2 separate regions of the Homo sapiens genome follow, and region 1 is linked to region 2. Evidence: fine-mapped expression QTL. A gene starts in region 2. The other region holds a variant in brackets. All regions are shown on one strand. Distances are between the middles of the regions. Region 1 holds the start of CCNF (cyclin F). Region 2 holds the start of BICDL2 (BICD family like cargo adaptor 2).

Evidence for each region.
Region 1: its variant is fine-mapped to the expression of BICDL2 in minor salivary gland (GTEx, PIP above 0.99).

The regions. Positions count from the first base shown.
Region 1 is chr16:2,427,659-2,433,019 of GRCh38, reverse strand. CCNF (cyclin F) reads right to left here and starts at 3,573. Exons shown (of 17, transcript NM_001761.3): 1 at 3,523-3,573; 2 at 1,736-1,890; 3 at 1-59. The coding sequence starts at 3,538. RefSeq lists silencers at 3,198-3,247, 3,258-4,107 and enhancers at 4,318-4,497, 3,933-4,512. The variant C/T (reference allele first, on the strand shown) is at 2,578.
Region 2 is chr16:3,034,196-3,039,556 of GRCh38, reverse strand. BICDL2 (BICD family like cargo adaptor 2) reads left to right here and starts at 2,613. Exons shown (of 10, transcript NM_001369667.1): 1 at 2,613-2,663; 2 at 4,031-4,342. The coding sequence starts at 4,061. It overlaps LOC100128770 (a long non-coding RNA gene), which reads right to left. Exons shown (of 8, transcript NR_047572.1): 3 at 4,563-4,659; 4 at 2,597-4,219; 5 at 2,162-2,278; 6 at 1,851-1,927; 7 at 1,545-1,722; 8 at 424-1,249. RefSeq lists an enhancer at 1,016-1,903.

The DNA of each region.
Region 1 (5,361 bases), 610 kb after region 2:
CTGGCACATGCCCACACACTGGCGTGGTTGTCCACCAGGTCCTTCAGCTGGGAGTGTACCTGCAGAACAACGGGGGCCGGGGCTGGGTGATGGAGGCACCACCCAAAAGCCCCACACCTGGAGGCTCTTGAGGACGAGAGGCAGATGTAGGGTCTCCTGTCTCCCTCGCCATCCCAAGTAGTTGAGGTCCCCAATCTCTGTGTGAAAGTAACTGTCACTTTGAGCAGATAAAAGAGCCCAGAAACGAGTTTCTCTGAGGTTCTAAAGCAGGGCAGAGGACAATGATCTGGGAAGGAGGAAACAAACACCTAGGCTGAGAAAGAGGGTTCAACATCCCTGCAAAGGTATCACCCCCAAAGACAGGGGAAACACTCTAAAAGGGGGCAGGCAGGACGGAAATGTGTTTTGTGCTTCCCCGCTGGAGGCCTTGCTAGTGGGAGTGTGGAAACAGGTCACAGGGACTCAGGGCAAAGAACAACACCCATGATGGAGGTCTCAGGTAGAACCCGGAGCCTAAGCGCTGGGCCAACGCAGGAGTGTCCAGGCCAGGACCTGGAGCACAGGTGAACACTTTAAGCACCAAAGTTTCCACTGCCATTGGAAATTCAGCACCCCCTGGGGTCCATAAAGTGTGTCGCACCTGCAATGGAGGTGGCTTTGGGAGTCAGAAAATGGGTTCTTGCTGGCATTTCCCCATGAATCCACTATATACTCTAGGTTAAGTCACTCAAAGTAAGCCTATGGTTCCAATATCTAGAAAATAACTCCTAGAGTCCATTTCAGTGTTAAATGTTACATGGAATTTGTCCTCAAGAATGTATTCTTATTCTTTTAAACACTATCCTATTTTTTAAGGGATGCAAATTTCACTGCCATAAAAGGGTACTTTCAGCCGGGTGCAGTGGCTCATGCCTGTAATCCCAGCACTTTGGGAGGCCGAGGCGGGCGGATCACGAGGTCAAGAGATAGAGACCATCCTGGCTAACACAGTGAAACCCCAACTCTACTAAAAATACAATAAATTAGCCGGGCGTGGTGGCGGGTGCCTGTAGTCCCAGCTACTCGGAAGGCTGAGGTAGGAGAATGGCATGAACCTGGGAGGCGGAACTTGCAGTGAGCCGAGATTGCGCTACTGCACTCCAGCCTGGGTGGCAGAGCGAGACTCTGTCTCAAAAAAAAAAAAGGTACTTTCTTTGTTGACACTGCAATGAACAGAGGCAATTTTAGTGTGCTAGGAGACAGCAGTAGGAATTTCTGTAATCAGAATGTCTTAAAGAAAGCATCTGGTAATGATATCATCCTTGTTTCCTTTTTGCCCTCCTTTTTTTTTTTTTTTTTTTGAGACAGAGTCTCGCTCTGTCGCCCAGGCTGGAGTGCAATGATGTGATCTCGGCTCACTGCAAGCTCTGCCTCCCAGGTTCAAGCAATTTTCCCGCCTCAGCCTCCCTAGTAGCTGGGATTACAGGCGTGAGACACCACGCCCGGCTAATTTTTGTATTTTTAGTAGAGATGGGGGTTTTGCCAAGTTGGCCAGGCTGGTCTGGAACTCCTGACCTCAGGTGATCCACCCCCCTTCGGCCTCCCAAAGTGCTAGGATTAAGGCATGAGCCACCGTGCCTGGCCTCTGCCCCAACCTCTTTTTTAGCCAAAGTTTTGTTCTGACAGTTAAGAACACAAGGCCTGATGGTATAATCAACAATGCTAGGGCTCATAGTGTTTTCATGCAGGGACTTACAGCTCGGACGGCCAGGATGTCCTCTACAGAAAGCCATTTCAGGATGTGAAAGAGCACATCTTCGGGGAGACTCAAGATGGTCAGGTTTCGGGGCCTCCTCCTTATTCTTCGCTTTGTAGGATAACAGAAACACTTGGCACACCTACAGTGGACCACTGAAGGAAAAAAAGACAGAAGCCTTGATAAGATGAAAAATTATTCTATATACACACCCTTGAAGGGAAAAAAAAAGGATAAAAGTTACATCTGAAGATGATCTAATGGTTACTATTCCCTGTGCCACAAAAGATGGAACTATGCTTCTTGTCCCAAACAAAGATTATGTAAAGGAGTGGCATTGCACAAATTACAGAAGAGATCATTCATTTTCAAATATTCAACAAATATTTATGGCAAATAGCGCATGTCATGTAACTTGGCTATTGGGAAACTTTCTGATCCAGAGCCCACATGACAGGCAGGAAGGGGAAAAAGCTGCCGAAGCTGAGGACGGTTTTCCTTCTATTTCACTCTCAGGAAAACTCCTGGGGCCTTTGCTGGATAGCTTTGCTTTTTGCACACGTGACCAAGGTGCATAATGTTCAATAAAGATCTGTGGGCTTGAAGAGTCTGGTTTTCAAGTCCAAATTAGAAGGGTCGGCCCTGGAGAGAAGCCACAGACTTGGAGGCCGGGGCAGTGTGCGTCCAAGTCTCAGCTCTGCAGAGTCTCAGTGTGCCCTCTATTGTAGAATGCGGAGTTGACAGCTACGCAGTAAGGTTGTTGCTCAGGTCCCAACACAAACCTAGACCTGTAGGTTTGTGTACAGATGCAATCATTAAAGGTGAGACGGGCATTCCACCCA[C/T]CAGGCAGGCAGCCCGGACATGCTTCTCAGATGTGCTCTCTCCTCTTCCCACAGCCGGATTTTCCAACTCCTACTCCAGCAACCCCTTCCTCACTCTAAGCAGATGACCTTAGCCCTTATTTCACAGGGAAACAGAAGCCCTCAGACAGGAACCTCAGGATCCTGCCTCCCCATCTACAAATCTACCTTTCTATCCATCCTTCCTTCCAGTCCTGAAAGGAAGCGCCACTCCCCTCTGTGGGCCCAAATCCCTCCCCGCCTTGCTAGGACTTCCTAGCGATTGCTCCCGGCTCCCCTCTCTTGACCGGGGTCTTCCTGTTAGCAATTAAATCAGCTGCAAAAGCCAAACGTATTCCAGGGCGACGAATTCTCAAAGATTCTATAGACCTCTCCATAAAATATTCCTCATTCTCCGGCTCCAGGACAGATACTATGATAATAGCTGAAACCACAGTTCGTGTTTCCTGTGCCTCAACGCGCGCGGGGCCGAACGCTGCTTTCCACAGAGCTAGGTCCACGGCCCCGCTGGACTGAGGCTCGGTCAGGGCCCGGCCGGGCTGCGGGATCGCTTCGCCCCCACGCGCTCCGCAGCCCTTTCCCCGACCAGGAGGCGCTGGTGTTTGGCTCCCCGAGACCCGATCGCCGCCCCGGGACCCGATCGCCGGATCGCTGCCCCGGGACCCGATCGTTGCCCCAGGAAAGGGCCGGAAAACGTCGCCGCGGGGGAAGGCTCCGAGGGGCTCGGGCGCCCGCCGGGCATTTAAACCGCGCGCCCGGCCGCCGGGGCTCCCTGCGCGGGACGCGACATCCGCCCCGGGTTAAAGAGCTCGAGCCAGCCCTCTTCAGGCCGCCAGGGCCTCCCCTCCCGCGGGACCCACCGTCCGCCCCGCAGGGCAGGCAGAAGGGGTGTGGGGCAGAAACCAGCGGACATCGCCCCGCACTCACCGCCGCCGCTCCCCATCGCCGCGCTCGCGTCGCTGCCGCCGGAGCCCGCCTGAGAGCGCGCCCGCGCCCCGGCCGGAGCGCGCGTAGCCCTCGCGCAGGCGCAGACCCCGCCCCGCCGCCCACCCCAGTTTTCAAACGCACCCGGCCCTCCCATTGGCCTGCCCGGGGGGGCCGCCGCCGGCCCCGCCCATGTCCCGCCCTGTGCTCGCCTCATTTACCGCCCTCCACGCCCTCCCCGCCTGCTCCGGGACCCGCCATTGGCCGCGCCAGGACGCGAATTCGAACATTGGCCGCTGATTGGTGGAACCCGCGTGGCCGCCCCGCCTCCCCAACGGGGCTGGGGTCCCGTAGGAGCGCTTCCCGGCCGGCGGGCAGGGGTTTGTGGGCGTCCCCTCCCGGCCGCATGGGTTCGGGCTTCGCCGCTGACCCCGGCGACCGGCATCTGCGGTGCCAGATGGGCTGCGAAGGCGCACGCCTGCGGCCAGGGGAAAGAGGACTCCTTGGCGTCCCTCGCAGTCGCGGCCGTGATCCAGCCTGGGACAGCCTCGACGTGGCGCTTCTAAGACGAGGCCGTGCCCTGCCCGGGTCCCGGGGTCGCTCCTGGGCCCGCGACCCTCACCCCCAGCTTGCACGGCCTTCCCTTCCGCCGCCTGCTTCAGGTGGAGACCCTTGGGTTTGTGGCTGAGCCGCTGCTGGGCGGGGATGCTGGCCGGGATCGTGGTAGAGAAAGAGGAGGTCGGAGCTGACGCTGGGAAGTCTCCCCCGCGGAACGCTGACCCCTTCTTCCCGCGAAACGTGGCGCACCCTGGACGCCTCAGTGCTCCAGCCCCGGGGCAAGCCCTCCCCATCACTTTGGCCAGATGCTGCCCCCTGTCTGGCCTCCTCGGCTGCTACCTGGAGCTGCTCGCCGCGGGAAGTGTCGTATCTGCTCACTCTTGTCTTGGGCAGTGCCCATCTGAGCTGTCCTTCAGGAGTCAGCCACACCGCACCCCTTTTACGGCACAGGCTGTCAAGGGGAAGACTCGCAGCCTCCTGACTGTCTGGTGGAGGACAGAGGGGGCTTTTCCTGGGGAAGGCAGGGGCCTGGGCCAAGGCTGCCCACCCCTCCCTCACGCTTCCCTCAGTCTGCACCCTTCCATCCTTCCGGGTCCCCATAGAACTCCTTCAAGTACTGGGCCTGCCCTGGGCACACAGACAGGAGCCCTGGCGTGCAGGCTTCAGCCGGCCTGGGGCAAGAGACAGAGTAAACAGGTGATCACAGCACAGGGTACAGAAGAGTCCGTGGCCCCAGAGAGGGTCTGGAAGTTGGGAATATTCCCTGTCCCGGAATCAGGAAGCGGGTGAAGGAGGGTGAAGAGAGGACAGGCTGAGCGAGTTTGGGGCCTGCTCCCCAGATGTCCCATGTTCTCAGCCCCCAGATTTATTATCCCCTTATCTCACTTTTGTCCTCCTGGGTTACTGTTTCCTACTTTGTCACTGTTACCTGTCTCCCCCTAGGGCAGAGGTGCACTTTCAGGGTTAGCTTCCATAGCATCTTGAAGGGATTAATCAACTAGAGCCAGCCATGAGCACATTAGCCACACCAGCTGCCTCTAGAATCTAGAACAGCATCCTTGGTCCCTAGGTTGTTGTTTAGCTCTATCCTGTGCTTTGTGTCCTGATCACTCTCCTTTCAACATGGACAGGCAAATTTCTTTTTCAGGGAGCAGGAGTTGTCTTGACTGCAGCCATGCCTGCTCTCGCCCCACACCCTGCACTGGCAGTGGGAGCCTCCAGGGCTGCCCTGGGGTGATAAGTGGCTCCTCCAGGGTGTGGGCCCGTTTCCCACTGGGCTTCAGG
Region 2 (5,361 bases):
CCAGCACTCTGGGAGGCTGAGGCGGGCAGATCACCTGAGGTCAGTTGAAGACCATCCTGGGCAACACAGTGAAACCCTGTCTCTACTAAAAATACAAAAATTAGCCAGGTGTGGTGGCACACGCCTGTAATCCCAGCTACTTAGGAGGCTGAGGCAGGAGAATCGCTTGAAACCGGGAGGCAGAGGTTGCGGTGAGGCGAGATCTCACCACCGCACTCCAGCCTGGGGGAGAGAGCGAGACTCCATCTCAAAAAAAATCCTCACATCCCTATAAGCTAGGAACTATCATCCCCATTTTACAGATGGGGAAACTGAGGGCCGCAGAGGTTAATCAGCTGAAGGGCATAGGCACCCACATCTGGTATGTGGCCAACTGGATCCTGGACCGAAGCTATGTGATGCCAGCACCCATGGGCCAAGCACTTTGCTGTACTGTTTTATTGGTTCATTTCTGGTTTATAGGTCTACGCTCCCTCCCATGGCCCAGGTGGACTGTGAACCTTCTGGGAGTAGGGCTGTAATCACTTCATCCTGGGATGAGCTCAGCCTGGCAGGAGGCGCTCAAGATGTGCTACGTGTGGGTGTGAGTGGGGCCCAGGGTGACTGGCATTTGGAGGGGACACTGAGCTTCTATTTCCAGAGGGTCACATAGCAGCACCCAGGGGAGGCTGGGATGTCTTCAGTCCTCCAGTGGCTACCAGGCTGCTCCCACAGGTGCAGTGGGAGAAAGTGTCAGGCTTGCTGGGCAATGTGGCTGTAAGACAAATCTCTGGCTCCCCTACTCTCTGCTGGCAGAAAACCCTGTCCCAGCCCCAGGACCCAGGAGTCCCAGTTCCTAAGTCACCCCTCCAAGGAGTCCTTGCTCCCCTTTTCCCACAAGCCAGGAGTCCCAGCCCCCACCCTCCTCCTATTTTTCTAGAACCCAAGTAAGTAGCCCCCAGTCCCCCAAGACTCAGGAGTCCTGATCCCCAGCCAGAGGTGCACGGACCCAGCTGACACCAGCCAGCCAGAGCTGATGTGCACAGCCCCTTCTACCTCTGCACTCCGTGACGCCAGGTGAGTAGCTGGAAGTCAGCCGAGGAGCAGGTATTGCATCATGGATATTGGCAAATGCAACGAGCGAGGGCTATTGTTTTAGCCGGGGAGCCTGTTGTTAAACGCTTACCAGCACGCCACTGCTCCCAGCCTTCCATCTGTCCTGCTCTCCAGGCCAGGAGCCCCTGTCACGAGGCCCAGGGAGCCCTGGAGTCTGGAGATAAATCGTGACAAGACACAAGGCCATGGATGGGGCATCACTGCTGCCCAAGCCACCCTGGGTCCCCAGCCCCGGACCTTCCCATCTCCACACCAAAGCCCCTGTCCCAGACAAGAGCACGGTCCCCAGCTCTGCATAACTGAGGAACTGAGAACCCCAGGTGTGGAGCCACACGGACTCGGGCATGGCTCTGGGCAAGTCACTCTCACTGCCTGGGCTACAGTGTCCTTGTCTGCGGCATGGGAATCAGTAAAGAGCATGACCCTAAAGCCACACTTGTGCTGTTCACCTTCCAGTTCTGACCAGGGGACCCCAAACAAGGTGGAGGACCCCCCTCCGCCTCCGAGCCTCAGCTTCCTCATCTGTAAGATGGGGATGACAGCAGTTCCTCGTCATCAGGTCATCATGAAAGTCAACAAGTTGAGCCGGGGAGGTGGCTCACTCTGTAATCCCAGCACTTTGGGAGGCTGAGGTGGGCGGATCACGAGGTCAGGAGTTTGAGACCAGCCTGGCCAAAACATTGAAACACCATTTCTACTAAAAATACAAAATTAGCTGGATGTAGTGGTGCATGCCTATAGTACCCGCTACTCACCAGGCTGAGACAGGAGAATCACTTGAACCCGGGAGCGGAGGCTGCTGTGAGCTGAGATGGCACCACTGTACTCCAGCCTGGGCAAGAAGAGTAAAATTCCATCTCAAAAAAAAAAAAAAAGGTCAACAAGTTATGCCTATAAAAGAGTTTACTTGACCAGAAGCAGAGGCTCATGCCTGTAATCCCAGCACTTTGGGAGGCCGAAGCGGGAGGATTGCTTGAATCCAGAAGTTTGAGACCAGCCTGGGCAACATGGTGAAACCCCACCCCTACAAAAAGTACAAAAATTAGCTGGGCATGGTGGCATGTACCTGCAGTCCCAGCTACGGGGGAGGCTGTGGTGGGAGGATCGCTTGAGCCTGGGAGGACGAGACTGCAGTGATGGTGCCACTGCACTCCAGCCTGCGTGACAGAGCAAAATCCCATCTCTAAAAAATAAAAAAGAGTTTACTTAGCAGAATGCTTAAGATGTCAGATTCGGTGTTGTTGTCATTGCTAATAATTTCCTGCCCCACAGGGCAAGGCAGTCGTGACGGGAAAGGAGCGGAGGCTACCTCAATGTAGGATCTGCAAACAGTAGATGCTCAGTTAACTGGCCGGGCCATTTGCAACCACAGCAGGTTGGGCCAGTGCCCCCCACCCAGGTGGAAGCGACTCTCCCTCGACCCCGCCCGGCCATTCAGGCAGCCAGGGAGCGCCCCGGCCCCTCCCGCGGCCCCGCCCCTTCACCTGTGTTGGCCGCACACCTGGAGCCGCCTCCGGAAGAGGGGACCGGAGACCGCGGGGACCTCGGAGGGAGCCCGGCGGCTTCGGGTGAGAGCCTGGGGGACGCCGAGGGCCGGGCCCCTCGAGCCTGGGGAGGGCCTGGTCCGGCCGCGTCGGCGGAGAAGGTGGGGGAGCCGGGGCGGGGGCAGGGGAACCGGGATCGCCGGGGAACCGGGGGCGCCGGCAGGAACTCAGCCGTCGGGGGTGAGCCCAGCCGCTTCTCTGGGCTTCCGACGCCTGGGGCTGGAGGCCCCAACACCTGGGCAGCTAGGTGCGGAAGGGGAGGGGGAGCGGTCTCCAGGTCCCTGTCTCTCGCGTGGAGGGGGGCGGGGGAGCGGGGCCCGCGAGGGCCAAGTCAGGGAGGTCCCCGGGAGCGGCCTGGGGGCGGCTGGGCTGGGACCACCGTGACACTCACGTCCTGCGAGCAGGGCTGCACATGGACACCGGGCGAGAGGAGGAGGGAGAGCACGGGTGTGTGTGCCTAGTGGGTGGTGAGCCCCCGGAGGGCTGGGGCTGGTAAAGCTGTTGTGTCGGGCCCTCTGACCCGAGCCCCTGAACCCCAGCCCCTGAGCCGCCCTAGGGGAGCCCAGGGCTCCCGTCCCCAGGGGCGGACCGGGAAGTAAACAGAAACTCCGAGCCGCGCTGCGGCCGGGCGGCCGGCACAACCTGTTACCTCGCCCTGTCCTGGGCCCCACGCCAGGGCCCTGGGAAACTGGGGGGCTGAGGGTCAGGGCTCCTGAGTCCGGAGGGGTGGGGGCATGAATGCCTGAGTCCCGTGGAAAATGGGGACTGGGGTGGGAATCCTTGGTGGGGGACATTGGAGGTGGGGACCTCTGAGTCTGGAGGGTGGAGTCAAAGCACCTGCTCAGGAGGTAGCAGGAGAATGAGGGCGAGAGACCCGGGAGGTCAGGGGCTGGGATCTGGGCTTCTGGCAGGGGAAGGAGCTGGATTCCTGGGGGCGAAGATACCTCAGTTCCCAAGCCTTAGGGTCCTGCATTCCTGAGAGAAGAGGCTGGGCCCAACTCCAACTGCTGAGTCCCTGAGAACCTGGGTTCTGGGAACTGTCTCAGATGGCGAGGGGCTACAAGCCAAACTGCTGGGTTCTGGGAAGAGAGGGGACAGGGAGCAGAGGTGGCCTGTGGCCCTGGAGCACTGGAATGAGCTTTCCTGGGGACAGAGATTGTCTGGCAGAGGCCAAAGGCTGGGCAGGTCATTTCCTTCTGCTTCCTGCCTCAGTTTACCCCAGGGACATTAACGGAACTGGGTAGCCAAAACACAGGTCATTAACCCTTTGTGGCCCAGGAAGCCCTGGCTGCAGGACCGGGCAGGCTGGCAGCAGGTGGAGAATTCCTGGAGGGCCAGGTGCTGGGCGGAGGGTGAGCCCCTGTCAGGCTGCAGAGTAGAGTGTCCCGCAGCCACCTGTCCCCGCAGATGCTGCAGGTGACATGAGCTCTCCAGATGGGCCCAGCTTCCCGTCCGGGCCGCTCTCAGGGGGCGCCTCTCCCAGCGGCGACGAGGGCTTCTTCCCCTTTGTGCTGGAGCGGCGGGACTCATTCCTGGGAGGGGGCCCAGGGCCTGAGGAGCCCGAGGACCTAGCCTTGCAGCTGCAGCAGAAGGAGAAAGACCTGCTGTTGGCCGCGGAGCTCGGCAAGATGCTTCTGGAGCGAAATGAAGAGCTGCGGCGGCAGCTGGAGACGCTGAGCGCCCAGCACTTGGAGCGTGAGGAAGTGAGCTAGCACTGGACGGGGTGGGTGGGTGGGTGGGCAGGGGAGGACGGGTGGGCCTGGAGAGGACAAGGGAAGGGAGTCAGGCAAGGGAAGGAGAGAGGAGCTGGGGAGGACAGCCGGGCGAGGGGGGCACTTTGGAACAGGTCAGAGCTGGGCCCAGTCCCCCTGGCAGTGTTGCCCAGTGGCAAAGAACATGAACTCTGGGTGCCGGGCACAGTACCTCACACCTGTAATCCCAGCACTTTGGGAGGCCAAGGCAGGAAGATCACTAGCCCAGTGTTGGAGAACAGCCTGGGCAACGTAGTGAGACTCTGTCTCTACAAAAAATAAGAAAATTAGCTGGATGTGGTGGTGGCACCTGTAGTCTCAGCTACTCAGGAGGCCGAGGCAGGGGGATCAATTGAGCCCAGGAATTTTAGAGTTTGAGGCTGCAGTAAGCTATGATTCTATGATCCACTGCACTACAGCTTGAGCAACAGAGTGAGATCCTGAAAAAAAAAAAAGGAAGGAAGGAAGGAAGGGGAAGGAAGGAAGGAAGGAAGGAAGGAAGGAAGGAGAGAGAAAGAAAAGAAAAAAAGGAAAGGAAAGGAAAGGAAAAAAGGCATGAACTCTGAGGATTAAGACCTGGATTCAGGCCAGGCATGGTGGCTCACACCTGTAATCCCAGCACTTTGGGAGGCTGAGGTGGCTGGATCACTTGAGGTCGGGACTTCAAGACCAGCCTGGCCAACATGGTGAAACCCCGTCTCTACTAAAAATACAAAAAAAATTAGCCAGGCATGATGGGGTGTGCCTGTAGTCCCAGCTAATTGGGAGACTGAGGCAGGAGAATCACTTGAACCTGGGAGGCAGAGGTTGCTATGAGCCAAGATCATGCCACTGCACTCCAGCCTGGGTGACAGAGCGAGACTGCATCTCAAAAAACAAAAACAAACTGGGTTCAGACCCTCGTCCAGCTGTGTGACCCTGGGTCAGCTGCTGGCCCTCTCTGGATCTTGGGTCCAGCTCCTCAGCAGTAT